4 linked regions of the Homo sapiens genome follow. Each later gene encodes a partner of the first gene's protein in a complex. Each region holds a gene or a part of one and is shown on either strand. Other genes may lie near its edges. The genes, in order: CETN3, RANBP2, NUP188 and NUP205.

The links.
Region 2: CETN3 (region 1) and RANBP2 share a complex: the UniProt entries of both Homo sapiens proteins name them as parts of the nuclear pore complex.
Region 3: CETN3 (region 1) and NUP188 share a complex: the UniProt entries of both Homo sapiens proteins name them as parts of the nuclear pore complex.
Region 4: CETN3 (region 1) and NUP205 share a complex: the UniProt entries of both Homo sapiens proteins name them as parts of the nuclear pore complex.

Annotation. Positions count from the first base shown.
Region 1 is NC_000005.10:90,392,752-90,399,785, reverse strand, and holds part of CETN3 (centrin-3), read left to right. Parts: intron 1-236; coding exon 237-428; intron 429-3,221; coding exon of another isoform or gene 3,222-3,293; intron 3,294-5,678; coding exon 5,679-5,722; 3' UTR 5,723-7,034. UniProt on the Homo sapiens protein: Plays a fundamental role in microtubule-organizing center structure and function. As a component of the TREX-2 complex, involved in the export of mRNAs to the cytoplasm through the nuclear pores.
Region 2 is NC_000002.12:108,722,461-108,729,494, forward strand, and holds part of RANBP2 (E3 SUMO-protein ligase RanBP2), read left to right. Parts: intron 1-6,671; coding exon 6,672-6,739; intron 6,740-7,034. UniProt on the Homo sapiens protein: E3 SUMO-protein ligase which facilitates SUMO1 and SUMO2 conjugation by UBE2I. Involved in transport factor (Ran-GTP, karyopherin)-mediated protein import via the F-G repeat-containing domain which acts as a docking site for substrates.
Region 3 is NC_000009.12:128,999,678-129,006,711, reverse strand, and holds part of NUP188 (nucleoporin NUP188), read right to left. Parts: coding exon 6,907-7,034; intron 5,184-6,906; coding exon 4,983-5,183; intron 4,829-4,982; coding exon 4,736-4,828; intron 3,896-4,735; coding exon 3,737-3,895; intron 3,396-3,736; coding exon 3,258-3,395; intron 1,566-3,257; coding exon 1,491-1,565; exon of another isoform or gene 1,415-1,490; intron 1,410-1,414; coding exon 1,182-1,409; intron 1,068-1,181; coding exon 936-1,067; intron 663-935; coding exon 589-662; intron 474-588; coding exon 344-473; intron 233-343; exon of another isoform or gene 211-232; coding exon 34-210; 3' UTR 1-33. UniProt on the Homo sapiens protein: Component of the nuclear pore complex (NPC), a complex required for the trafficking across the nuclear envelope. Required for proper protein transport into the nucleus.
Region 4 is NC_000007.14:135,644,917-135,649,287, forward strand, and holds the end of NUP205 (nuclear pore complex protein Nup205), read left to right. Parts: coding exon 1-102; intron 103-551; coding exon 552-680; intron 681-1,241; coding exon 1,242-1,315; intron 1,316-3,487; coding exon 3,488-3,640; 3' UTR 3,641-3,837; downstream 3,838-4,371. UniProt on the Homo sapiens protein: Plays a role in the nuclear pore complex (NPC) assembly and/or maintenance. May anchor NUP62 and other nucleoporins, but not NUP153 and TPR, to the NPC.

The sequences.
Region 1 (7,034 bases):
ACTTTTATAATAAGACAAGTTGCTCATGATAAAAAAGGTTAACATTTAAAATATGGATTTGATTTTTCTAATTTCAGGTTTATCTCGGGGTTTGGGGATCTCATTTGACATTTTATTGTCAGACTAAAAGTTGACAGTCACAGCTTTAATTCTCATCTAATATTTAGTTGATTTCACAAATGAATGCCTTTGTGATTATGCAGGTTTATTAAAATATATATGTTTTTAAACTGTAGTGACAGACTGGATATTGGAAAGAGATCCCCATGAAGAAATACTCAAGGCATTTAAACTATTTGATGATGATGATTCAGGTAAAATAAGCTTGAGGAATTTGCGACGTGTTGCTAGAGAATTGGGTGAAAACATGAGTGATGAAGAACTTCGAGCTATGATAGAAGAATTTGACAAAGATGGTGATGGAGAAAGTAAGTTTTAAGTGAAACGTATTTTCCAGGTTTTCCTGATGCTACACATGTAATACATTTTTCTAAAACCAAATGACTTGCAAGACTTTTTTGTAAACTTAACTGCTTCTTGTAATGGACCTTCTGTCTAAATAATTCACATATTCAATTTAGAATGAAGCAGATCTCTAAAACCAATTATACTTCAAGAAGGTCCTTCACTTTTCTCTGAAGGTGAAACCACCAAAATTTCAGCCTTTCAATATAATTTCAGTCTTTAATGGCTTCTCCCTCAACCTACATGCTAAGTTCTAAGTTCTATTGATTTTCCCCTTCAAATGTTTTGAATCTGTTTTTATCTTTGTCCATTGTGGCTGTCCTAGTTCAGGCCCTAATTTCTAGTTAGGAATGTTATAATGGCCTCATTTATTCTTGCCTTGGCTGCCTACTGGGTGCAGTGTCCTGCGTGTTGACTGGTGCTACACAATGAAAAAGGCAGATGTGGTTCTTGCTTTCACTTTGCAGTCTCTTGTAGTGTCCTAATTGCCCTTTCGGCATATAAAAGTCTCTAATCTCTTCTTCAGTCTCTTGGTATCATTCTTTTCCTAAAATATACATTTGATAATGCCATTTCTGTGTTTAGACACTTGAAACGATTCTTCAGTGCCTACAGAGTAAAGTTCAAAGCCTTCTATGATCTATCCCACCTTGAGTAACTGATTTTACTTTCCAGTGTATTCTTTCACTTTTCTTCTTTAACCCTCACCTCCTGTATGTACACATTTTGTCAACATATGCTATCCTGAAAACACATTTTTATGCTATTCGTTTCATCCTGCTGTTTCTTAATCTTAGAATGCTCTAATTGTTAATTTCTGCCTGCTAAAATGTGATTCATTCTCTCAGGTAAATATTAAACACCATCTTTTTCCCAAAAGCTTCCCATAACGCTCTATGAATCATGAGACTTCCATTGAAGGCCTATAGCATTTAGAGAAACAAATTGTTTTGATACTTTCATACACTTAATATGGAATCTTTTGGCTGGAAACTAAGTTTTGTTGAGATAAAAACCACTTTATTTGTATGTTAAACTGCTAAAGATTAGACCTTGCTGTCTTTTTTGTGGACTTTAGTGTTCTTCTCTCTTTGTGACTTTTTCATGCTTTTCAGTATCTAAGAGCAATGAAATTTTAAAAATATTGGGTATATAGAATAATAAACATGGTGAATGTGAAGTTAAAGGTAAATAAGATGTACTACAAGATAGACATAAAGCTGTGGTAATGATACAGAAAGAGTCACTTCCCCCTGCCCCCTCAACAGCATATATAAAATAAAACACAGCACATCTTTTGGAAAAAATGAAAGGAACGTTTTGAAAAGCCAGAATGGATAATCTTTTAAATAATGATGATGTTTTTTAACATTTATTTAGCAGCTACTATATTGGATATTAGCATTAATTATGTCACTTAATTTCCATAATAACTTGTAAAGTAGATATAGTATTATACCTATACATGTGTATAATAGATGCATATATAGAGATGAGGAAGCTAAAGCTTTGAGAGATTATTAATCTGCCCAGGTTATCACAAAGCTAATACTGTACATGGTAGAGCCAGAACTCAAAATCAAATCTCCAAAATGGCAAAGAATGTGCTTTTAAACGTAATATTGTATTGCCTTTCGGGCTATGAAGTAAAATATTAACTAGACTTCTATGTTTATGGAGTTTTAAAAATTACATGCTATTATAGGAAGCAGTGTATTAGCAACATACTCAGTTGGAACTTCCAATTCTAAGATTTGCTTTTCCCCTTCAAAGCCAGATGGTCTCTAAGGTACTTAATCTACTTAGTTCTGTAAAATTCTTATTGTTAGCAACTTGTAATAAGATTTGCTCTATGAAATGGTTGATGTATGAAAAATTTTGTTAAAGAAGGCAGTATAAAAGGAAACAAAGTGTCATATTTTCTTGATTCAATAAATGTTTTACCAAAGCTTATTTTAAGCTAGGCATTGTGGTAGATTTATTAGATATAGGAACTTGATATAAGATATTGTTAATAGAGAAGGTTATAAAATCAAATGCACAGAGATATAGAAGATTGTCTTTTAATTGTCTACAAGACAATTAAAGTAAAGTAGCTAGTTTAATTTCCTGAGCCACTTTCTAATTTTTACTTTCTTGGGTTTAAGTAGTGTGTTTTTAGGTATGAATCATGGAATTCAGTTGTCCCTTGATAAGCACAGGGGATTGGTTCCAAGTCGCTTAAGGATGCCAGAATCTATGGTGCTCAAGTCCCTTGTATAAAATGGCATAGTATTTTCATATAACTTTCACATATCCTCTTGTATACGTTAAATCATCTCTAGATTACTTATAATACCTAATACAATGTAAATGCTATGTAAATTGTTATACTTTATTTTATTTGTATTATTTTTTATTGTGTTATTTTCCCAAATATTTTTCATCTGCAGTTGGTTGAATCTGCAGATGTGAGGAACCTGTGGTTACAGAAGGCTGACCGTATTTTAAATACTTTTGAAATGCTATTATAGTTTAAAGTTTTTGTATATAAACAATATAAAAATTAAGTGTTTTGTGGTTTTCAAACTTATATATGAAACTTAAAATTTGCAGTTTGAGTATTGAAATTTTACAGATCAAGAAAAAGTTCTAGATCTTTAAGTAACAAGTACTTTTTGGATTTTGAATATTTTAATCATGGATGTATTACACTGTTAAAATGATTTGTAATCAAATCATTCTAAGGCTGTTTTATGTTTTTTCTCTTAATACAGTTCTTAAGAACATACTCTTGCTTCCTATTTGGTCTAGATGCCTCAGTCTAAATCGGGAGTTCTTCAGTGAAGGTGCACACTGGCTAAACTGATTAATAATTTTATATATTTGAACTGTATTTATTGGAAAGAGAGAGGGATCATAGCTTTCCTAAGATATTCAGACATGGCTATTTAACTGCAAAGGTTAAAGATCACTACATCAATTTGTAAGATTCTTGAAAGTAGTTTGGAGTATTACAGATTTTGTATTACGTTCTTACCATGTTTGTCATAGTGTTTTGTAGATGTTAAATACTGATTGCATGGCTTCATAGTTCCCTGTCAGCTTCTGGAGGGTGCATTTTTCCTAACTCATAGCTTATTTCTGTGAGGCATACACTATTCTTTCTTTGACTGTATTTCTGATGGTATTCTCCCACCCCAGCTCTCTTTCTACTTCCTTTCCAAATTCTGTATTTTTATTTTAGAGCCCAAGTAATGATTTACCTTTACCTAAATTTTTCTTATTAGTAATAATTTTTACCATTGTGAAGGATTTTTTTTCAACACTGATTTGGTCTTTGTTTTAATAATAAATAGTATTTTGTGTTATAAAACATTTGTTCTGTTTCAAGTATAAAAACTGACTAACATAGTTATCAAAACCGGTTTTCTATGTGGTTTCTAGAACCAGTGCAGTATATATTCTTTTCATTCCCTATGACCATGTTTTATCTCCTCAACATTTTTTAATTGGTTAATTTTTTCTAACTGTTCATTATGAATATTCTCAAACAGAAAAATTGTCAGACTAGTACAATGAACACCATTGTACCTTCTGCCTAGATTTAGTAATTAGTATTTTACCGCATTTGCTTTACCTGTCGTGTGTATATTTTTTTCTCAATCATTTGAAAATAAATTTCATATATCAAGAACTCAGTCTTTAGGCCAGGCACCATGGCCCATGCCTGTAATCCCAGCACTTTGGGAGGCTGAGGCAGGTGGATTGCTTGAGCCCAGGAGTTCAAGACCAGCCTTGGCAACATGGTGAAACCTAATCTCTACCAAAAATACAACGATTAGCCAGTCTCATAACCCGGTCTCTAAATTAATTAATTAATTAATTAAATTTTAATAATAAAACAAAAACTTGATCCTTTAATATTTTAGCATATCCATCTACTAAGAACAAGGATATATCTTTCATAAAGCTATGATACCAATGTTACACTTAAGAAAGTTAACAATAATTTTATAATATCATATAATATCTTTCTCATTTCGGTTTTAATGTATTCCAGAATAGGAAGCCTGGTGTCTGTTTTGATATATTACGCAACACTTATTGTGGTGTTGGCATTCACTAGCCACTTAAAAATGTTTGATTCAATGGAGTATTTTCATATAATACCTTCTATGGTAAATAAGAGTTAAACAATCTAAAACATCATCTCATAGTTCAGTGTTTTCAGATGAAGGAAATGAGATGCAGAGCTGTTCTGTGCAGAGCTGTGACTAGAGACCAGGTCTTAAGTCTCAGTGTAGTTTTCTTTTGGCATTATCAAAATTATCATTCATAATTTATGCATTGTTTAGGTATGTATTAAGTCTTAGGGCTAAATGCTAAATACTTACCAGAAGTATCTTCTGAACATTTTTCTTAATTGATACGTGCGCATATGTCGGGTTTTCAAAATTATATTCTATAAGATTATCTGATTTCTTATTTCTAGGTTGCTGTCTTAAACATTATGTTTTATAAATTGGAGATTCTTACTATATTTATAATTTTGGCAAACTAAAAATTAGTCCTTATCCATGATTATTTTCTGCCTTTACATCTATATAGTTACTGGATTACTTTGGTGATTAAGATTACATCTGTAATCTTTTCAAATTGCCATTTTTATTGATACCTTTGAGGTATGGTGACCTGGTTTTAATTATTCTTTAACATAGGCTTTTAAGTATATAAAAGTTCAAAAAATAATAATTTAACTTCTTTTTATAATTTTATTATATTTTCATTCTTTAGAAATCTAATTTACATGCATGATATGTTCAAGCTTACTTGTAAAGGAAGGATTTGCTAAATGAACTAGTAGAATAAAGATTATAAAGAGGGTTGTTTAAAGAACCTTGAAATGTCAAGCATTTAAAATGTTTTAGCAAGTATGTACAAATATGACTGTGATTGACTTTTTTGGTAACATTATCTTTTCCCCAGTTAATATTATAGAATACTAATTTGTAATGTTTATCACATTATATGTATTTTTGCATCCAAGAAGTTACATTTAATAAACATGTTCCACTTCCTAACAAAGAAGTAAAAGCAAAAAGCCATGTCTTAATGTAATAATTTTGCATAATGTAAAATTTTTTAAATACTTAGTGTAAAATGGTAGTCGTGGATTCTGAAAAAATAAAATGTTTATATTTCTGACTATTTCATTTTCTTTCTTACCACAGTAAACCAAGAGGAGTTCATTGCTATTATGACTGGTGACATTTAAAGAATTACAAGGATAAACACTAAGAATGTTGCAGTTACCATCTTATATTCTATTTTTGTGCCTGGAGCCATGTGAAAAAAACCAACTTAGTTCTTTTATCCTAAAGGACCAAAAATAAGCATCTTATATATCTGTATTTTACTACTGTTAAGTTTCTTTGTATGAACTGTGTTGTTAGTACTCAGATAGTTTAGCTTTGTATTTATAATAGAGCTTTTATATAAAGTTTTAAAAATTGAATGTGTGATATGTGTTCTTTGAAGGTTTTTTAATTTAACATTTATAGTCACTTTTTAGTGCACACATTTTCCAGACTTTCGTTAATAAAATATTTATTTTATTAGAATTTTAAAGTTTGGTAAATTTGTTTTTATTCCTAGTATCTGTTAACCCTCAAGAGTGGATTTCTTAAATCTTCCCTTTATAATTTTACTAGTTTCTGAAACAAAAATTGAAATACAATTAGCAATAGAGTGGCACATTTTTCCATTACCTAACATTTCATCAATTTTGACATTCTATATTTTAATACAAGCTGACTCAATATAAGCCTAATTCCTTTTTTAAGAGTCCTGTCTTTGAGTTTAGAAGGAATAAGTATTGTGCAGATAGACCCATTTATCCTTGTGTATTATGTTTCTTAACTTGGTATCATTGTAAGTATGAAAGTTAATTTTCTTCTGAATATTTCCTTAAACAAATTGAATGAATACAATTTGAATTTTCTAACTTCTTGACTGAGAGATTTAAATTTTGGAATTTTGATTTGTTAAGGTAATTATCACTCAATTACATGTCACAGTGATGAAAATAGAAAACTGTAAGCCACAGAAATAATTTAAGTCTATGTTTTACCTATATGAAGGAACAGTCTGTGATTCACCAGGAAATAGTAGAGACACAGTTTCCAAGTACTGGTGGGCTCTTCTGCCTTGTAGAAGTGTATGTTAGGGGGAAACAAGTGGTTATGGAGATCGATCATAGAAAAAAATAGTACCTATATGGATCCTTCACTCATATCTAGTACTCGGTGTTATGGGCTCTCCCAGGAACGGAATTGAGTTGTCTATTTCAGCAATCTTTCTTTAGAATTCTTGTTTTAAATTTTTAAGTTTAAAGTGTAGTATCATTTGAGGCGCTTTAAATGTTGTGAGCCTTTTAAGAGTATTACATTAAGGGTTGTCCACTAGAAATTTAACACAAAATCAGTAGGGAATACTATAGCAGTAGTGACATTTCAAACAGTTATCTAGGAAGCAAGTGTATATTAAGTCATTCTTGTATTGCTACGAAGAAATACCCAAGACTGCAT
Region 2 (7,034 bases), on another chromosome or scaffold:
GTATTCTCCCCCAGTTTGGCAGAGGCTGGCCATCTGTGAACTGCCCATGCTTTCTAGAATGTCGGAGTTTTGGAGTGTGATGATGCGTCTGTATATCATATCTTTCTAGTCTTTCATTGTGCTTTCATTTGTTAGTCTTCTCTTGTTTTGCCATTTTTCTACTCCCTCACATGTGCTTTTGCCCTTAAAAATATTCTTCGTCTGTAATCTGAGCACTTTGGGAGGCCGAGAGACCAGCCTGACCAATATGGTGAAAATCCGTCTCTATTAAAAATACAAAAATGAGCCGGGCGTGGTGGCAGCGCCTGTAGTCCCACCTACTCGGTAGGCTGAGACAGGAGAATTGCTTGAACCCTGGAGGCAGAGGTTGTGGTGAGCAGAGATTGCACCACTGCACTCCAGCCTGTGTGACAGAGCGAGACTCTGTCTCCAAAAAAGAAAAAAAGAAAAAAAAATATAATTCTTTCTCTAGTTTTTCTTTTTCCAGATGGCTTCTGTTTAGTTTTTCTATGTTCTGTCAAGTTGATTTCTTATTCTGCAGCTGATTCCTACTTCTCAAAGTCTACTTGACAGCTCTTATTTTTATTTATTTGTTTTTTAGAATAGGGTCTTGCTGTGTTGCCCAGGCTGCCATCAAATTTTTGGGCGTAAATGATCCACCTACCTCTGTTTCCTGAGTACTTAGGACTACAGGCAGGCACCTTTGACAGCTGTTAGTTGTTTTTTCTGCCCTTTACAGCTATACTTCATACTTCTGAGTAACACACATATATACTTTTGTTATTTTTAATTTCCTTTCTCCCATTTTAGACATTTTCTTTTCTTTTTTTTTTTTTTGAGACGGAGACTCGCTCTATCGTCCAGGCTGGAGTGCAGTGGCGCGATCTCGGCTCACTGCAAACTCTGCCTCCCGGGTTCACACCATTCTCCTGCCCCAGCCTGTAGCTGGGACTACAGGCACCCGCCACCACACCCGGCTAATTTTTTAGTATTTTTAGTAGAGACGGGGTTTCACCGTGTTAGCCAGGATAGTCTCGATCTCCTGACCTCATGATCCGCCCGCCTCAGCCTCCCAAAGTGCCGGGGTTACAGGCGTGAGCCACCGCGCCGGGCCCCATTTTAGACATTCTGTACTGGTTATTATGCTCCTCCAAAACTGTCCTCAGACACTTTGGTTTGCCCCTCATTCTTTCAGTACTGTTATTGCAGTTTTTGTTTAAATGAATATTTAACATTTATATAAATATAAGGTAAATATTTTTGCATTTGAATTGCCCTTGTTGTGCGGTTTTGTTTTTCCTGGACTGAATAATTGCTTTATTTTTTGGTTTGCTTGTATGTTGTGTTACTACTTGCTTACTTAAACTCAGCAATTTACACCCTCAAATGTGGTCAAACTGGTCACATAATCCCATCAATTGCAGCTTAAAACATTGATTGATTGATTGATTGATTGATTGTCTGTCTACCTGGAATACCCTTACTAACTGACTTCTCCAACCAGGATTGGTTTTTCTTCCTCTTTGCTACACAGCTGTGCTCTTGGGACTTCCCTTTATCATCAGTTTGAGAATTCCTTTCATCTTTTTTCTGAGTTAGACCCTTTGTTTCTTGTATCTCATGTCCTCTTCATTTACTTTCTTTGTTTTGGTGTAGCATAGTCTCACTTGCTTTGAGGAAAAGTAGATGAGAGGTTTTTTTGTTTGTTTGTTTTTGTTTTGGGACAGAGTCTTGCTCTGTTGCCCAGGCTGGAGTGCAGTGGCATGGTCTCAGCTCACTGCAACTTCCGCCTCCCGGGTTCAAGCGATTCTCCTGCCTCAGCCTCCTGAGTAGTGGGATTACAGGTGTGTGCCACCATGCCCGGCTAATTTTTTCTATTTTTAGTAGAGATGGGATTTCACCATGTTGGTCAGGCTGGTCTTGAAACTAATGGTATGTCTTTAAAATGTCTTTACTTAATTTAGTTGATCATTTGGTTATCGAATTCTGAGTTTGAAATAATTTTTTTTTCGCAATTTTGAAAGCATTGCTCCATTTTCTAGAAGTTCTGTTGTTAGGAGTCCGATGAGATTCTTGTTCTTGGTAACTTAAAGGTTTTCTGGAAGTGTCCTTTCAATTGGGAAACTCATTTCTTTCAGTTCTGTAGCATTTCTTGTATTATTTCTTTGACCATTTCTTACCCTTTTTTTAATGACGTTTACCTGAAAGCTGGAGTTTCTCTAATTTTTCTCTTATTCTCCTCTTTTGTTTGTTCTGCCTTTTGAGAGATTTCCTTACCCTTATGTTCCAGGGGAAGAAGATTGGGGAACTCATGGTTCAGTATCTAGACTTTTCCTCATTGTCCTGTATAATCGCGGCCTTCACCCTTGTTGGGACTCCACAGATTTGGAGCTGATCAGATGGGTTTGTTGAGAACAGCTGATCAGATGGGTTTTTGGAGGATTTTAGGGGGAGGGAGATTCATTTGACTGTGCAAGATGGGCGACAGAGTGAGACTCCATCTGAATTAAAAAAAAAATTTAGAACTGCATAGTGAAAAAGTAGGCCACAAATATTAAGTTTTGGACAATTACAATTACATCTCTATCTTACTGTGCAAGATAGAGATGATGTGGCATCTCTTAGGGTCTTACTGTTCCTGTTTTCAGCCCTGCATCAGTTCTTGATATTTGGCAGCTTAAGTGAATTCAGGTATTTGCTTATAGTGACATCTGCTGTCATGTAAAGAAGTACTGCTTGCATCAGATATTGTCCTGTTTACATAACATGGGCTGTGCTCCTTCCTAGCTGTGTATCTTTAAACAAGGCATTTACCTGCTTGAGCTTCAGTTCCCTTGTAAAGTGAGCAGGTTAGAGGCAAAAGATCATATAGAAGAATAATTTGTAAAGTTGTTTAATTATCTTAAGATTGTCTACTTTAATAACATAGTTGGAAGCAAAGAAGGTAATGGAATTATTTTTCTATTATGTTTTGGCATTGTACCTTGAATCTATTTCTTCATTTTGAAAAGGGGGAACTGGCTGGGCTCAATGGCTGACGCCTGTAATCCCAGCACTTTGGGAGGTGGAGGAAGTCAGATCACAAGGTCAAGAGATCGAGACCATCTTGGCCAACATGGTGAAACCCCATCTCTACTAAAAATACAAAAATTAGCTGGGCATGGTGGCGTGCGCCTGTAGTCCCAGCTTGTACCCGGGAGGCAGAGGTTGCAGTGAGCTGAGATCGAGCCACTGCACTGCAGCCTGGCGACAGAGCAAGACTCCATCTCAAAAAAAAAAAGGAAGGGGGGAACAAGCCTTGTTCCTTTACGTGCTGTCCTGACTGCTGTGTATTATTTTTGTTAAGATTGCTGTAGTTCTTTTTTTTTTTGAGACGGAGGCTTGCTCTGTCGCCAGTGCTGGGATTGCAGGTGTTAGCCTGGCATTGAGCAACGTTTTGTAATTTAAGCATACAAGTCTCTCACCTCCTTGTTTACATTTATTCCCAGGCATTTTTTTCTTTTAGATGCGATTGTAAATGGAATTGCTTTCTTAATTTCCTTTTCTGATTGTTCGTTGCTGGTACAGTAGTCCCTTCTTATCCACAGTATTGCCTTACGTGGTTTTACTTAGCTGTGTCACCCGTGGTCCAAAAATATTGAATGGAAGATTATATAAATAAACATTTCATGAGTTTTAAATTGCAAACGGTTCTGAATAACATGGTAAAAATCTCACGGCCTCCTGCTCCGTCCTACCTAGGACACAAGTCATCCCTTTGTCCGACATATTCATGCTGTATGTGCTCGCCACCCGCTAGTTACATACTAGTCATCTCAGTTATCAGATCAGTTGTTGGAGTATTGCAGTGCTTGTGTTCAAGTAACCTTTATTTTATTTAAAATGGCACCAAAGAGCAAGAGTAGCGATGCTGGCAGTTCACATATGCAGAGAGAAGCCATATAGTGCTTCCTTTAAGTGAAGAGGTGAGTTTTTTTGTTTTTTTTTTTTTTTGGCTTAAACAACAGAAATTTATTTTCTCATGGTTCTGGAGGCTAGAAGCGGCAGATCAGGGTGCTGCTGCTTTGGTTCCTGATGAGGGCTTTCTTCCTGGCTTATAGGTTGGCTGGCATCTTGTCCTCACATGGCAGAGGGAGAGTACTGTAGTCTCACCTTGCTTTTTATTATTATTATTTTTTTAATTTATTTTTTTATTGATAATTCTTGGGTGTTTCTCACAGAGGGGGATTTGGCAGGGTCATGGGACAATAGTGGAGGGAAGGTCAGCAGATAAACAAGTGAACAAAGGTCTCTGGTTTTCCTAGGCAGAGGACCCTGCAGCCTTCCGCAGTGTTTGTGTCCCTGATTACTTGAGATTAGGGAGTGGTGATGACTCTTAACGAGCATGCTGCCTTCAAGCATCTGTTTAACAAAGCACATCTTGCACCGCCCTTAATCCATTTAACCCTGGGTGGACACAGCACATGTTTCAGAGAGCACAGGGTTGGGGGTAAGGTCACAGATCAACAAGATCCCAAGGCAGAAGAATTTTTCTTAGTGCAGAACAAAATGAAAAGTCTCCCATGTCTACTTCTTTCTACACAGACACGGCAACCATCCGATTTCTCAATCTTTTCCCCACCTTTCCCGCCTTTCTATTCCACAAAACCGCCATTGTCATCATGGCCCGTTCTCAATGAGCTGTTGAGTACACCTCCCAGACGGGGTGGTGGCCGGGCAGAGGGGCTCCTCACTTCCCAGTAGGGGCGGCCGGGCAGAGGCGCCCCTCAGAAGAGGTGAGTTTTTGACTTAGGAAAGAAAAAAGATCATATACTGGAGTTGCTAAGATCTATGGTAAGAACAAATCTTTTGTCCATGAAATTGTGAAGAAGGAAAAAGAAATTTGTGCTAGTTTTGTTGTGACACCCCAAACTGCAAAAGTTACAGCCATAGTGTGTGATAAGTGCTTAGTTGAGATGGACAAGACATTAAATTTGTGGGTGGAGGACACAAACAGGAAACATGTTTCGATTGACGGCAACCTGGTTTGATACTATTCATCGTTTTGGACATTCACTGGGGTCTTGGAATTTCAAAAATAAGATGTTTGAGTAGCTGTATACTCTTTATCACATGGATGGAACATACTCTGGTTGTATCAGCATTTTTTTTTTTTTTTTTTTTGAGATGGAATCATTCTGTTGCCCACGCTGGAGTGCAGTGGTGCGATCTTGGCCCACTGCAGCCTCTGCCTCCCGGATTCAAGCGATTCTTTGCCTCAGCCTCCCAAGCAGTGGGGATTACAGGGGTGTGCCACCATGCCCAGCTAATTTTTGTATTTTTAGTAGAAAGGAGGTTTCTGCATGTTGGCCAGGCTGGTCTCGAACTCTTGGCTTCAGGTGATCCGCCCGCCTCGGTCTCCGAAAGTGCTGGGATTACAGGTGTGAGCCACCGCACCCAGCCTGGTGTGCATCAGCATTTTGGACTTTGGAGTTTATGTAACCAAGGAGCCAGGCTGTGGACCTCGTTTATTACTTGAAGAATTCAATATTTATTTCTGCCTTTTTGACTCCTTGACTGTAAAATACTGATCTGATCTGTAGAGAGAACAGTACATGGACCAGGGAATCCTCAGTGCCTTAATAGATCCTAAGTACTTACTTATTCTTTCCCATAGAGGCTTACACATGGTAGGAAAAGAGATTTCTGGAATACCTTTCCTCCCCAAAGAAAGCTGGTTTCTTTTGTTTGTTAAGTGAGAGAGTGGTACCACAGGGTTTCCAAGATTTCCAAGGCTGATGAAAATTCTTCTGTTGTCTGCTTGTCTTACTTTCTTGAATTTATTTTTTGTATGTTATGTATTTATTATTTAGAGAGAGGATCTCCCTGTGTCACCCACGCTGGAGTGCAGTGTCACAGTCATAACTCACGGCAGTGTCAACCTCCTGGGCTCAAGTGATTCTCCTTCCTTGGCCTCCTGAGTAGCTAGGAACACAGGCATGCTCCACTATGCCTGGCTATTTTTTTCTCCCTGGAGACAGGATCTTGTTGTGTTGCACAGGCTGGTTTCAAACTCTTGGCCTCAAAGCTAGCCTCCCACCTTGGTCTCTGAAAGTGCTAGAATTAAAGGTGTGACCAACTGCACCCAGCTTATTTATGATGATGATGATGATGATGATGATGATGATGATGATGATGATGTTTGGGAGATGGAGTCTCGCTCTGTCGCCCAGGCTGGAGTGCAATGGCACGATCTCAGCTCACTGCAACCTCTGGCTCACTGCAACCTCCACCTCCTGGGTTCAACTGATTCTCGTGCCTTAGCCTCCCGAGTAGCTGGGGTTACAGGCACCCACCATCATGCCTGGCTAATTTTTGTATTTTTGTCAAGACGGGGTTTCACCATGTTAGCCAGGCTGGTCTCAAACTCCTGACCTCAGGTGATCCGCCCACTTCGGCCTCCCAAAGTGCTGGGATTACAGGCATGAGCCGCTGCACCCAGCTCTATTTTTTGTTTTGTGATAGGAAATTATAAAACATGGAATTATGCATTTGTCAGCCTTTAAAAAAACTTTTAAGTGAATGAAAGTGGCGTATTTGAACATCAACTTAGGACAGATTTTTACTACTTTTGAAAAAATGTTGGAAAATATTTCTGTATGAAAAGTAAAACAACTTTTAATTTTTTTTAGAAGTCAATGAAAGGATTCTATTTTGCAAAGCTGTATTATGAAGCTAAAGAATATGATCTTGCTAAAAAGTAAGTACAAACTGTAACATGTATTTTTTTTTTAAAATCAATGCCTTTTCTCATTTTCTTCTTTGAAATAGGTAAAAATATGTTCTTAGTAGTTCTTCCTAAGTGTATTCTGGAATAAGGGATTTATCACTCAGACTGATGCTAAGGACCAGCCTAGATTCCATTGAGATTGAAACCGTAATTAGTGTTTTCTGCATGCTGCTGCTTTATACCAAGGGCAAGAAATTGTTTGGCTTCAAATACTTTTTCTAAAAATTGTCTTCTGTTGGAGTAAAAGAGGACCATGCCTATATCT
Region 3 (7,034 bases), on another chromosome or scaffold:
TGGAGAGGGGTAGGTGGGCAGAACAGCACTGCCCTATCTTTGCATATGCCGGACAAACGCCTGCACCAACTGGATCAGAGGCTCCTGACTCTCAGGGCTGGCTTTGGAGAGAGAGGTGGACTTGCCCTGCGGCGAGGGGAGGACACCAGTGGCAGGGGAGCTGGGGGCTCCCCGGCGGAAGTAGCGCGAGAGGCTGGACAGCAGCGTGCTCTACAAGAAAAAAAGTGGCTTGGTGAGGCTCAGCACATCTGGCTACTGTTCTGACCCTTGGGGGTTGCCAGGCAGGACCCCACAGGGCTCTGGCCCTATTGGTCCAGCCCTCCGTATCCCTATCCATCCGTACCAACTCAGAGCTGAGCTCCTGCTTCATCCGCTGTTTGTCCCGGGGGTGCACAGCCGGGTCCCTAAGGTACCGCATCGCCTGAGAGATGAGCAGGTAGAAGCAGTTTTCCATGGTAAACATCAGGAGGGACCTGGGAGGAGACACAGGTTTTTGGTACTGCTGCAGAGGGCCAGGCTGGCCAAGCTTGAGAACAGTGGGCCCATGACTGCCCCAGCCCCTTATCAAATCCCAGAAAGAGCACTTACTTTAACGTCCTGGTCCCTTCTGCCTGTGTGCTGAGCCCCACTGCCTGGGTGAGGGGCTCCTTTTTCTTGTCCAGCTGAAGAGAAGCAAGGGTAAAAAACTAAGACAACAGGAACAGCTCCCACTTACTGAGAGCTTCCTACTTGCATGTCCTGCACTAAGCAAATTTAATCAGTTACCTCATTTAATCCTCACAGTAATTCTCAGAGGTGCTGTCATGTTCAGTTTACAGAGAGGAGCAGGCTTGGGAGGCTAGGTACCATGCCCAACATGCCCAAGGTCAGCTGGGAAGTGGCAGGCAGGGGGAGGAGCCGGGGGGAGAGGACAGTGTCTGACAGAACCAACTTACCTCTCCAAGCATGTTGAGGGCCACATTCACTGTGGCCAGAAGGGTCCCGAAGGAGGGGGCCACTTCGGAGTCAAAGGTGGGAGTGGTAAAGCTCAGGGCAAACAGGAAGTTGTATTCAGCAAGGTCCAGGGACTGCGAGAAAAGACAAGAGCCATCCAGGACCCAATTAAGGCCCCAGGTAGCTCTCGGTACACAGCAGAGCAGAGCCTTTAGGGGAGGTGGTGCTGAACAGATGATGGGCAGTACCTGATCCAGCAGAATCTGGCAGACATCTGGGGTGAAGTGGCGCAGGGCTGCCAGCGTCTTGCTGAGGATCTTGAGAAGGCCATACTGGACTGTGTGCAAGGCCTGCTGCTCTGATGCCTCTGTGTCAGCAGCGGGCTGCTTTGAGGAGGAGGGGGCAGCAGAAGCAGCAGACGGTGGCCTCTGGACTCGCTGGGCAACAGCTGAGGGGAGGCCATCCCCATTTTTGTTCTAAGGAGAGTCAAGAAATGAAGGTGGAGCTTGGGAAGCTAGCGTGAGGTATTCCAGGACCTCATGGCATAGGACGCTTACCTGTAAGTAATGCTGCAGCATCTTTCGACTGTGCAGGAGAGAGGTACATGCCTGGCACAAGTAACCCAGGTTGACCTGGGAGAGACACAGGAGAGATGAGCGGATTCTCTTGTCAGCAGCCCAGTCACCCAACCAGACCAACCCAATAGCCCTCCATGTAACACCCATGCGCTCCTCACTCGCTGCTGCTCTTCTCTCCCTCCTTCCCTCATGCTCCCCTTCTCTCCCTCCTTCCCTCATGCTCCCCTTCTCTCCCTCCTTCCCTCATGCTCCCCTGGCCACTTTCCAGCTTAAAGCCCCTATAGCCACTAAGTACTCAGGGCTACAAACTTGGGCCAGCAGGGCTCAGGACTGGACTGTCTCCCTGAGACCCAGCTAGGTGCCTGGTATATTGTAAGGTCCTAAAGTAAAGAAGATGAGGCCGGGTGCGGTGGCTCATGCCTGTAATCCCAGCACTTTTGAGGTCGAGGCAGGCGCATCACGAGGTCAGCAGATCGAGACCATCCTGGCTAACACGGTGAAACCCTGTCTCTACTAAAAATACAAAAAATTAGCCGGGCGTGGTGGCGGGCGCCTGTAGTCCCAGCTACTCGGGAGGCTGAGGCAGGAGAATGGCGTGAACCCGGGAGGCGGAGCTTGCAGTGAGCCGAGATGGCACCACTGCACTCCAGCCTGGGCGACAGAGCAAAACTCTGTCTCAAAATAAATAAATAAATAAAATAAGATGAGGATTATGGCTGATTCCATTTTATAGGAAAAGAATAAAAGGTTACAAGTAACAAGTGACTTGGCCAAGGTCATACAACCAGCAGATAAGAGAAGCCTGCCTGGCTCTGGAGCCTGTGTTCCTTCCTCACCCCTCCCTTCTCCAGCTGGTTCCCAGCTCCAGTTGTGTGTGTTTTTTTGGTTTTGTTTAGTTTAGTTTTTTTTTTTTTTTTTTGAGACGGAGTCTCACTTTGTCACCAGGCTGGAGTGCAGTGGCGTGACCTCGGCTCACTGCAACCTCCACCTCCTGAGTTCAAGCGATTCTCCTGCCTCAGCCTCCCGATCCTGAGTAGCTGGGACTACAGGCGTGTGCCACCACACCCAGCTAATTTTTGTTATTTTTAGTAGAGATGGGGTTTCACCATGTTGGCCAGCCTGGTCTCGAGCTCCTGACCTCATGATCCTCCCGCCTTGAATTCCCAAAGTGCTGGGATTACAGGCGTGAGCCTATTGCACCCGGCCATTTTTTTTTTTTTTTCTTTTTGGGACGGAGTCTCGCTCTGTCACCCAGGCTGGAGTGTAATGGTTCGATCCTAGCTCACTGCAACCTCCGCCTCCCAGGTTCAAGCGATTCTCCCAACTCAGCCTCCCGAGTAGCTGGGATTACAGTCACGTGCCACCACGCCCAGCTAATTTTTGTATTTTTAGTAGAGACAGGGTTTCACCATGTTGGCCAGGCTGATCTCGAACTCCTGACTGCCTCCCAAAGTGCTAGGATTACAGGCGTGAGCCACCATGCCCGGCCCCAAGTGTATTCTTAAGGGATCTGAACCAAGATCTAACTGATAAAAGTCCAAATTCTTAACCTACATGGCTGCCCTTGACTATGGAAGGAAACATTTAGCCAGAGTAAGCACATGACAGCAAACCCTGTGCTCCCCAAGGGAAAAGCCCCCGTTCAGGAACATCCTGCAATTCACTAGGAGTGCCCCAGTGAGACCTCACAGCCTCCCTGTCTCCAAGCATTACCCCAGACTCCAAGACACCATCTTGGGCCCCCACCTGGATATCACGCATGAGCTGAGGCAGGTGGAAGTGCCACTCCTTCATGAAGTTAGAGAGCTGCAGAATAAAACCCACGGTGTGGTCCGCCTCCTCCAGGCAGGCCAGACTCTGCACTGTCCTCACTGCGTTGAGGCACTGGGAGGAAAGCACACATCAGGGAAAGATGGGGATGGCTGAGGGACCTGACATACCCACACCTACCCTCCTGTGGAGAGGCAACGTCCCAGGCCCCCAAATGCTGAGTTGGCAAAGAAATGGCTTAGTGGTACAACCAGGATTCTGACCCGAGACCGTTCCCGTCCTTCAGCAGACTAGCTGGCCAGTGAGCCAGCAGAGTACTTAGAGCATCTCAAAAATGAAGGCATCGACAACCCTCCGCTACTGAGGCCCAGGCTCCACACCCACCTGCCCCATGAATGGCCCAGTACCTTTTTTACCCTGAAACTCCCACCCCTGCAATGCAGGCAGCCCCTCACCTGTAAGGTCCGCTCCTGGTGGACACCCACGAAGTCCAGGGCCTCAGGCAGGAAGTTGTAGCGCAGAGTTTTGAGCAGCTGCTCCATCAGGGACATGGACAGGCGGTAGACTCCTGGCCAAGAGGGGGCATCCAGGGACTTCCGAGAGGCACTAGGTGTCTAAGATACAAACAGCAGACAAGCTCAGGAACCCTGCTGAGAGGCAGGACCTCCTTGTAGTACAGCAACTAAGGCAGCCCAGCTGCGCTGAAAGGAAAAGATCTCCCAGAATAGACACAGCCACTGTCTGGCCACCAGGGCCAGAAAGGGGCCAACACCAGCAGATTCAAGGAAAGAGCACCAGGCTGAGACACAAGACCCAGGGTTCCAGACTCAGGTCTGCCACTGACGAGCTATGCGAACCTGGACATGTCACTGCCCTGCTCTGGCCCCTACATACTTCCTCTAAGGGGTAGCTGGGCTAGATGACCAAATACTTCACGACTCTCATGAGAGAGAGAGGTTCAGGTGAAGACTACTCTTTTGAAATTAGGAGGTATCTGTTAAACTAGAAATAACCAAGGGACACAGAGGGCAGGGTGCTGAGGCCCCATCAAGCCCCCAGACCACCCACTTCCCTTCTCCCAGTCCTGGTCTGGTGGTGCAGGGGTGGAGAAGTCACAATGACACACTGTCTTTGGGAATGACAGGAGAGGACAGCTGCCTTGGCTAGAGGCCTGGTCCAGGGATGTGTTATCAATCTGGTTTAGTCTTCCTCACACCTGCAATGGGAAGAATCCATCCCATCTCCCAGAGGTAGTGCACAAAGGCCAGGCGGTGCCTTTTAGTGGTGAGTTTCTCTTGCTAGAGATCCGCCTGGGGGCAGGGAAGATTCCTCACCATCAGTGTATTAGGCAATTTAGAGGAAAGCAACTTCCGGGGAAAGGTAGGGGAGGACACTTTTCAACTGGAACTGTAGGGTGGTCAGGCTGGGCCTCCTGGCAAGCTCCTGACACTCACCTGTGCTGTGCCGTTGGTGCTCAGCTGGTACACACTCAGAAGGGGCAAACAAATGCTCTGGGTGATGCCAGCTCCAGCCACTGCTGTGGCTCCCTGGGAGGAGGGAAAGACAGGAAATGAGATGGAGCCTGCCCCTGCCCTGCCTAGGGTAGGTAGGGCTCTCAGGCTAGATCACAGCTTCTGGGATTGTCAGAACCCACCCAGGCAAGCAAGGACGCTCCCTCCTGCCTTCGGGCTGGCCTCCTACCTGCTGAGTGCGAGCCAGGGTGAGGAGCAGATGCAATGTGGCCTCAGTGAAATGCAGGTTCTGCTTCATGCGAAGGCTCACCTCTAGAGTGGTGAGGAGGGTGGGTAGGATGGGGAGCCTGCGGGTTACCTGCAGCCAGGAGTCACCATCCTCGTCTACCTCACACAGCTCCTTGGCCAGGTGCAGGCCCAGGACACACACCTGCCCAGAGGCAAAGATGAGTAAAAGGGGGAAGAAGAAGAGGAGGAGGAAGAGGACGACAGGCAGCGGTGGGCCTGGTTGCCCAAGACCTGCTTGGTTACACACATTGCTAAGTGAGCTTGAGTAACACAGAATGCACACTCTCTCCCACCCTGCCCCTCTCCTATGTCCAGCTCTCAATGAACAGCAGCAACTCCAGCCAATCTAATGAGCAACCCTAAACTGACCAGAGCTACCCCCGCCTCTTCCCTCCCACCTCCCACACTGCCACCACCCTTGTCAGAGCCACCTCGTCTCATGTTGGACACTCCAACCAACTCTGCCACATGGAGTCTGAGGGACCCCTACGACCCTGCCCGATGCCACCTCCTGCTCTGCTACTGCAACCATCTCCTAAATAATCCTGCTCCATCCTCTCTAATCTATCCTTGTACCAGTGGCCTTTCAACCTTCTTTTTGGCCATGACCCAGAGTCATAAAGACATTTTTTTTGAGATGGAGCCTCGCTCTGTCCCCCAGGCTGGAGTGCAGCGGCGCGATCTCGGCTCACTGCAACCTCCGCTCCTGGGTTCACGCCATCCTCCTGCCTCAGCCTCCCGAGTAGCTGGGACTACAGGTGCCCGCCACCACGCCCGGCTAATTTTTTGTATTTTTCATAGAGACAGGGTTTCACCGTGTTAGCCAGGATGGTCTCCATCTCCTGACCTCATGATCTGCCCGCCTCGGCCTCCCAAAGTGCTGGGATTACAGGCGTTAGCCACCGTGCCCGGCCCATAAAGACTTTTTAGACTGTATCCTCATGTACACGTTTACAGTTTTTCACTAATAATACCTACCCTAATGTCACACAAAGCACAGTGATATTTTCTTAAACACTTTATTCTACTTTATTTTAAAAAAATGCTGGTTGTGGCCAGGCGTGGTGGCTCACGCCTGTAATCCCAGCACTTTGGGAGATCAAGGCGGGCGGATTACGAGGTCAGGAGATCGAGGCCATCCTGGCTAACACAGTGAAACCCCGTCTCTATGAAAAATACAAAAAGTTAGCCGGGCGTGGTGGCAGACACCTGTAGCCCCAGCTACTCGGGTGGCTGAGGTGGGAGAATGGCGTGAATCTGGGAAGCAGAGCTTGCAGTGAGCCAAGATCGCACCACTGCACTCCACCCTGGGCGACAGAGCGAGACTGGTTGTAACAAAATGTGCTAATTTCAAGACTCTCTCTAATAGGTCATGATCCCACAATTTGAAAAATACTATTCAATACTGCATCCAGAGTGATCTTTCTTGGGCACGCCTGTAATCCCAACACTTTGGAAGGCTGAACTGGGAGGATGGCTTGAGGCCTGGAGTTTAAGTCCAGAGTGATCTTTCTAGAGTAAAAATCAGATCAACTTTTTCCCCTGCTTAAAAGCCTTACATCATTTCCTATTTCACTTCGGATCCTGCATTTGCCCGCGGCTACAATCTCTAAGTCATTGCTGAAAAGGCACCTAAGTCCCAGTTCAAGTCAGAAGTGAGACTAAGTTCTCCCTGCACTTCTCTCCTGCAGTACAATGGGCTGCTTCTGCTTTTCTGCAGTGTCTGATCTATTAACCTTTCCCACCAGGCCGTGAACTCCAGAAGTGCAGCGACTATCTGTCTTGATCACTACTTATCCCCAGAGTCAGGCACAGAGCTGGCGGGCAGTGGAAAGGACGGATGGCCTTCTAGGGCACTGTCTCACCCCATCACGCTGGTCCCTGTGCCGGGACCGAGAACAGTCGTCAGTCTCCATGCTGTCCTTGTCCTCTGTGGCACTGCCTAATGCCAGACTGTGGCGGGTCTGGTCGAAGAGTGCAATCACTTCCTCTT
Region 4 (4,371 bases), on another chromosome or scaffold:
CTGGTGTTGATAAAATCTCCACTGCTCAGAAATATGTTCTAGCAAGACGGCGCTTGGTGAAGGTGATCAACAATCGAGCTAAACTGCTTTCCCTTTGTTCTTGTATCCTTTATGAAATCATGCACTTGAATGATGACCTTGAAATATAGGAACTGTTCACTTATTCTCATATTATTTGGGCACCAAAACCAGGTGGAAGGAGATAAACTTAATTTTTTCCCAGTAAATGCCTAATGTATTTCCAAATCATAGTTTTTGTTCTTATCTTTTAGAGTAGCTGGTAATACTGATAAAATACATGGGCACTTTCTGTTAGGGAAGAAGGTAGGGACATGAGACTGCTGGCACAGGACCCCAAGGTCCCCACCTCTTTCCTCAGCACACCTTGCTGCTTCCTCTTGAGGAGCCTTCAGTGAGACCCTGTCTGTTAGACTGAGGCTGTGGGTACCTCATTAAGTGAGTGCAGTCTGTCCTTTTTTCTTCTCCTCCGAAACTGGTGTGTAAAACATATTTGATGAGATTATGTTCCTTTAATCTGAGCTCTGGTATAGTTATCATAGAGACCTGCCTATTTATTCTTTGGCGCCATCTGGAGTACTACTTGTTACATTGCATGCCCACGGATTCTCAAGATTCCTTATTTGCCTCGAGAACCTTGTTTAAAAGCAGAAGACTGCAAGGTAAACTTTCTGCTAAAAATTAATGAACCATAAATACCTATTTGTGCCTTGAAAAGCTAGTACCAGTTTTTTTTTATTTTTGTTTCCAGATTACTTAGAGTGAATTGGGTGAATCAAGAGCTGTTTAGTCACTAGACGTAGCTATTTCTTGCATTTTACTTTCTGTTCACGGGACATTGTGCTGAGCATAAGAATATTCTAGAGCCTGCTCATCAGCTGTTCCTTAGCTTCTTGCTGCAGTTAGGGGGCTGATCCAGCTCTAGAAGAATGGAGGAGGTCTGCTATTATGCTGATTCTTATTGCTGGAGTGGGCCTCTGTGACTGATGGCCATATATTGGATCCCTTAGGTGGAAGGAAATAGAGAAAAGCTGAGAACCCTGGTCTGGACCAGTGAAATGCTTTCTAGGGGCTTCCATTTGCTAAAAGTTGAAAATTGAGTTCCCAATCTTGAGCCGTGTTTTTCATGGTGCTATTGTTATTATTCATTGTCATCAGGTTCCTCCACTGTGTGGTAGATAGGTACTTGCACAGCCGGTATGACTCTGTTTTTTTATCTCTAGATTCCTTCGCCTCAGAAACCAATCTAGATTTTAGAAGTGGGCTGGCTATAGTGAGCCAACATGATTTAGACCAGGTAAGGTTCTATTCTCATATTCTTTTATTTTTCTTCATTAAAGTAAAAGGGCTGGGTGTGATGGTACACATCTGTAATCCCAGCATTTTGGGAGGCCGAGACGGGAGGATTGCTTGAGCCCAGGAGTTTGAGAGCAGTCTGGGCAACATAGTGAGACCCCGTCTCTTAAAAAAAAAAATTGGCATACTGTGGTGGCATGCACCTGTAGTCACAGCTACCTGGGAGGCTGAGGTGGGAGAATCACCTGAGCCTGGGAGACTGAGGCTGCAGTGAGCTGTGATTGCACCACTGCACTCCAGCCTGGGCAACAGAGCAAGACCTTGTCTCCAATAAATGAATGAAAGAGTGAAGCAAGACCTTGTCTCCAATAAATAAATAAATAAATGAATGAATGTAAGTAAGTAAGTAAAAAGGAAAGCCTGGTATGTTAATAAGATTATGATTTTCAGGGTTGCTTACAGACACCTGGTTTGAACTCTAGCTTGACCATTTTAACAGCTATATGACTTTGAACAACTTACTTAACTTCCGAGCCTCAATTGCTTCATCTAAGAAATAGGAGGATTCAACCTCAGAGGGTTTTGTCAGAATTAAGTGAGGTTTCATGTATGTGAGGCTGCTAGTGTTGTACCTAGAACATGGTAAGCATTCCGTGATTGGTAGGCATTATGATCTGGAAACTCCTGATGTCTTTTGATTAGCTTTGTAGAACTTTTTAGGTACAAAGTATCACTCAGCACTTATTTTTCAGGAAATAATTTAATGGTGAGATTGAGAGCAGCCAATACAAATCCCGCCGTCATAGACCATAGTACACAACACTGTGCTCTTACTAACCTGTTGATCAGTAGTGTTAGAATGAATGAAGAGTATGCCAAAAACAATTACAATGAAAACCTCATATTAAACTAATAGCAAAGTTATGTTTCTAACAAAGCAGGTATCAGGGTGTGTGATGTTAGGGAAAATGAATTACAGCTAGATCCTCTGCTAGCCATCTGAATGTCCTTAGCCATGATTTGATAAAGCCTCTGCTCCTCCCAAATCCCTCTTTTTGCTATTTTTCTTAAAACAAGGTTGGGAATGAAAGGTGCAGTTACAGCAGCCTCCAAAGCACAGCTTGCTGGATATCATGAATACCACGCTCCCATCCCAATCCAGACTACATTCGCCCCTTAGTGACTTTATAAAAGGAATTCGTTTTGTGGCTAGGCTTGTTTAGGAGAACTAGTGTTAATTGAGGCCATGTGCAAAATTAGCCAAAGAAGATTATTCAGAAGTTTGTTTGTTTGTTTGTTTTGTCTGAGAGACAAGGTCTCACTCCATTACCCAGGCTGGCATGCAGTGGTGTGACCACAGTTCACTGCAGCCTCAACCCCCTGGGCTCAAGTGATTCTCCCGCCTCAGCATCCTGAGTAGCTAGGACAACAAAAATAAATATATTTTGAAGTAATAACTGTTACTATTTCATTTAGACTGCTTTGTGAAAAAGCTAGAAAAAAATGCAGGATTAATAAATAATCTCACACTCTGTGTTGTGATTTTAATGCAAAACTGAAAACAGGTAGATTGATCTAATATTGTACTTAATTTTAGTCTTTTAGTATAACATCAAAAAGATCCATCTGAAACTACATATGCATTCTAGAATATATATGAATTCTAAAGCATATAACAGGTGTATCCCCACATTAATATTTTTTGAAAACAAAAGCATGCAAGTGGGTTTTTAAAAATTGCAAAATGAAGTAAAAAGTAAAAGCTTCTTTCCCACCTACCCTCCTGTCCTCCCTCCCTCCCTTCCTTCCCTGCATTCTCCTTCCCTCCCTCCCCCGCCAGTCTTACTGACTTCTTGTATGGCCCTTCAGGAAATGTTTTTGTGTGTATGTTAGTATATCAGCATCAGCATCAACATTCATTGCTATTTAAAGCAGGTTTTTAAATTTATACAAGAAAAGAAAGCAGGAAAAACATGAGAATTAAACCAAAAAATTCTAAGGTAGAAAATGTGAATGTTTAGTTAATTTAGTAACACATTACAAAAATTCAAAAGTATTTACATTGAAAGAACCACATTACAAAAATTCTAAAGTGTTTTAAATTGGAAGACTTAGAATAAAAGAAATATTTGAGACAACAATTTTAACAAAATGTCTTTTGTGTCACCGCTAGCTTCAGGCTGATGCAATCAACGCTTTTGGAGAATCACTACAAAAGAAACTTCTGGACATTGAAGGATTATATTCAAAAGTTCGATCTCGATATAGTTTCATACAGGCTCTTGTCAGACGTATCCGTGGCCTCTTGAGGATATCAAGGAACTGAGAGCCCGTGCTTATGCTCTTCTATGAGAGAGATGAATTGGGGAGAATTGTCTCCATTTTATAGATTAGTTTCTTTCTAAATTATGACCAAAAATATTTTGCTATTTCTTTCTTTGTATATGGACATCTTTTCTGTAAACTTCTTCCCCTAGTTCCATCCTCACTAGTAAAAAATAAATACTTTTTAAAAAAACAAAACAAATGTATGGTTAATCTTTTGATCTTTTATCTTTTGATCAGCATTATCAGGAATCTAACAAATAAACCTTCAACAGTGGTGATTTTCCCATAGAGATATTATTCTGAATGCCAGATTAAAGGCATAGTCTGAAAATTCTAATTTTTTCACCCTTTGTAGCTACATTACACTATTAACAATATTCAGGGTTACTAAAATATAGCCATGCTCTTATAGAATAGTGTACTCAATACTGTGAAAATGTCTGAAAAAGTCAAGCTTTTTCCTAAAATTATTTAGGTTTTCCTTTTTTTTGTTTTTTTCTTTTCTGCACGTAAGTTGACAATACAATTGTCCCTTGGTATCTGGTGATTACTGGTTCTAGGGCTCCCACGGATACCAAAACCTATGTTTTGGCATGCATGTTCCTTATATAAAATGGCATTGTGTTTGCATATAATATAGATACATCTTCTTGTATACTTTAAATCATTTCTAGATTACTTACAATACCTAATATAATATGAATTCTATATAAATAGTGGTTAATACTA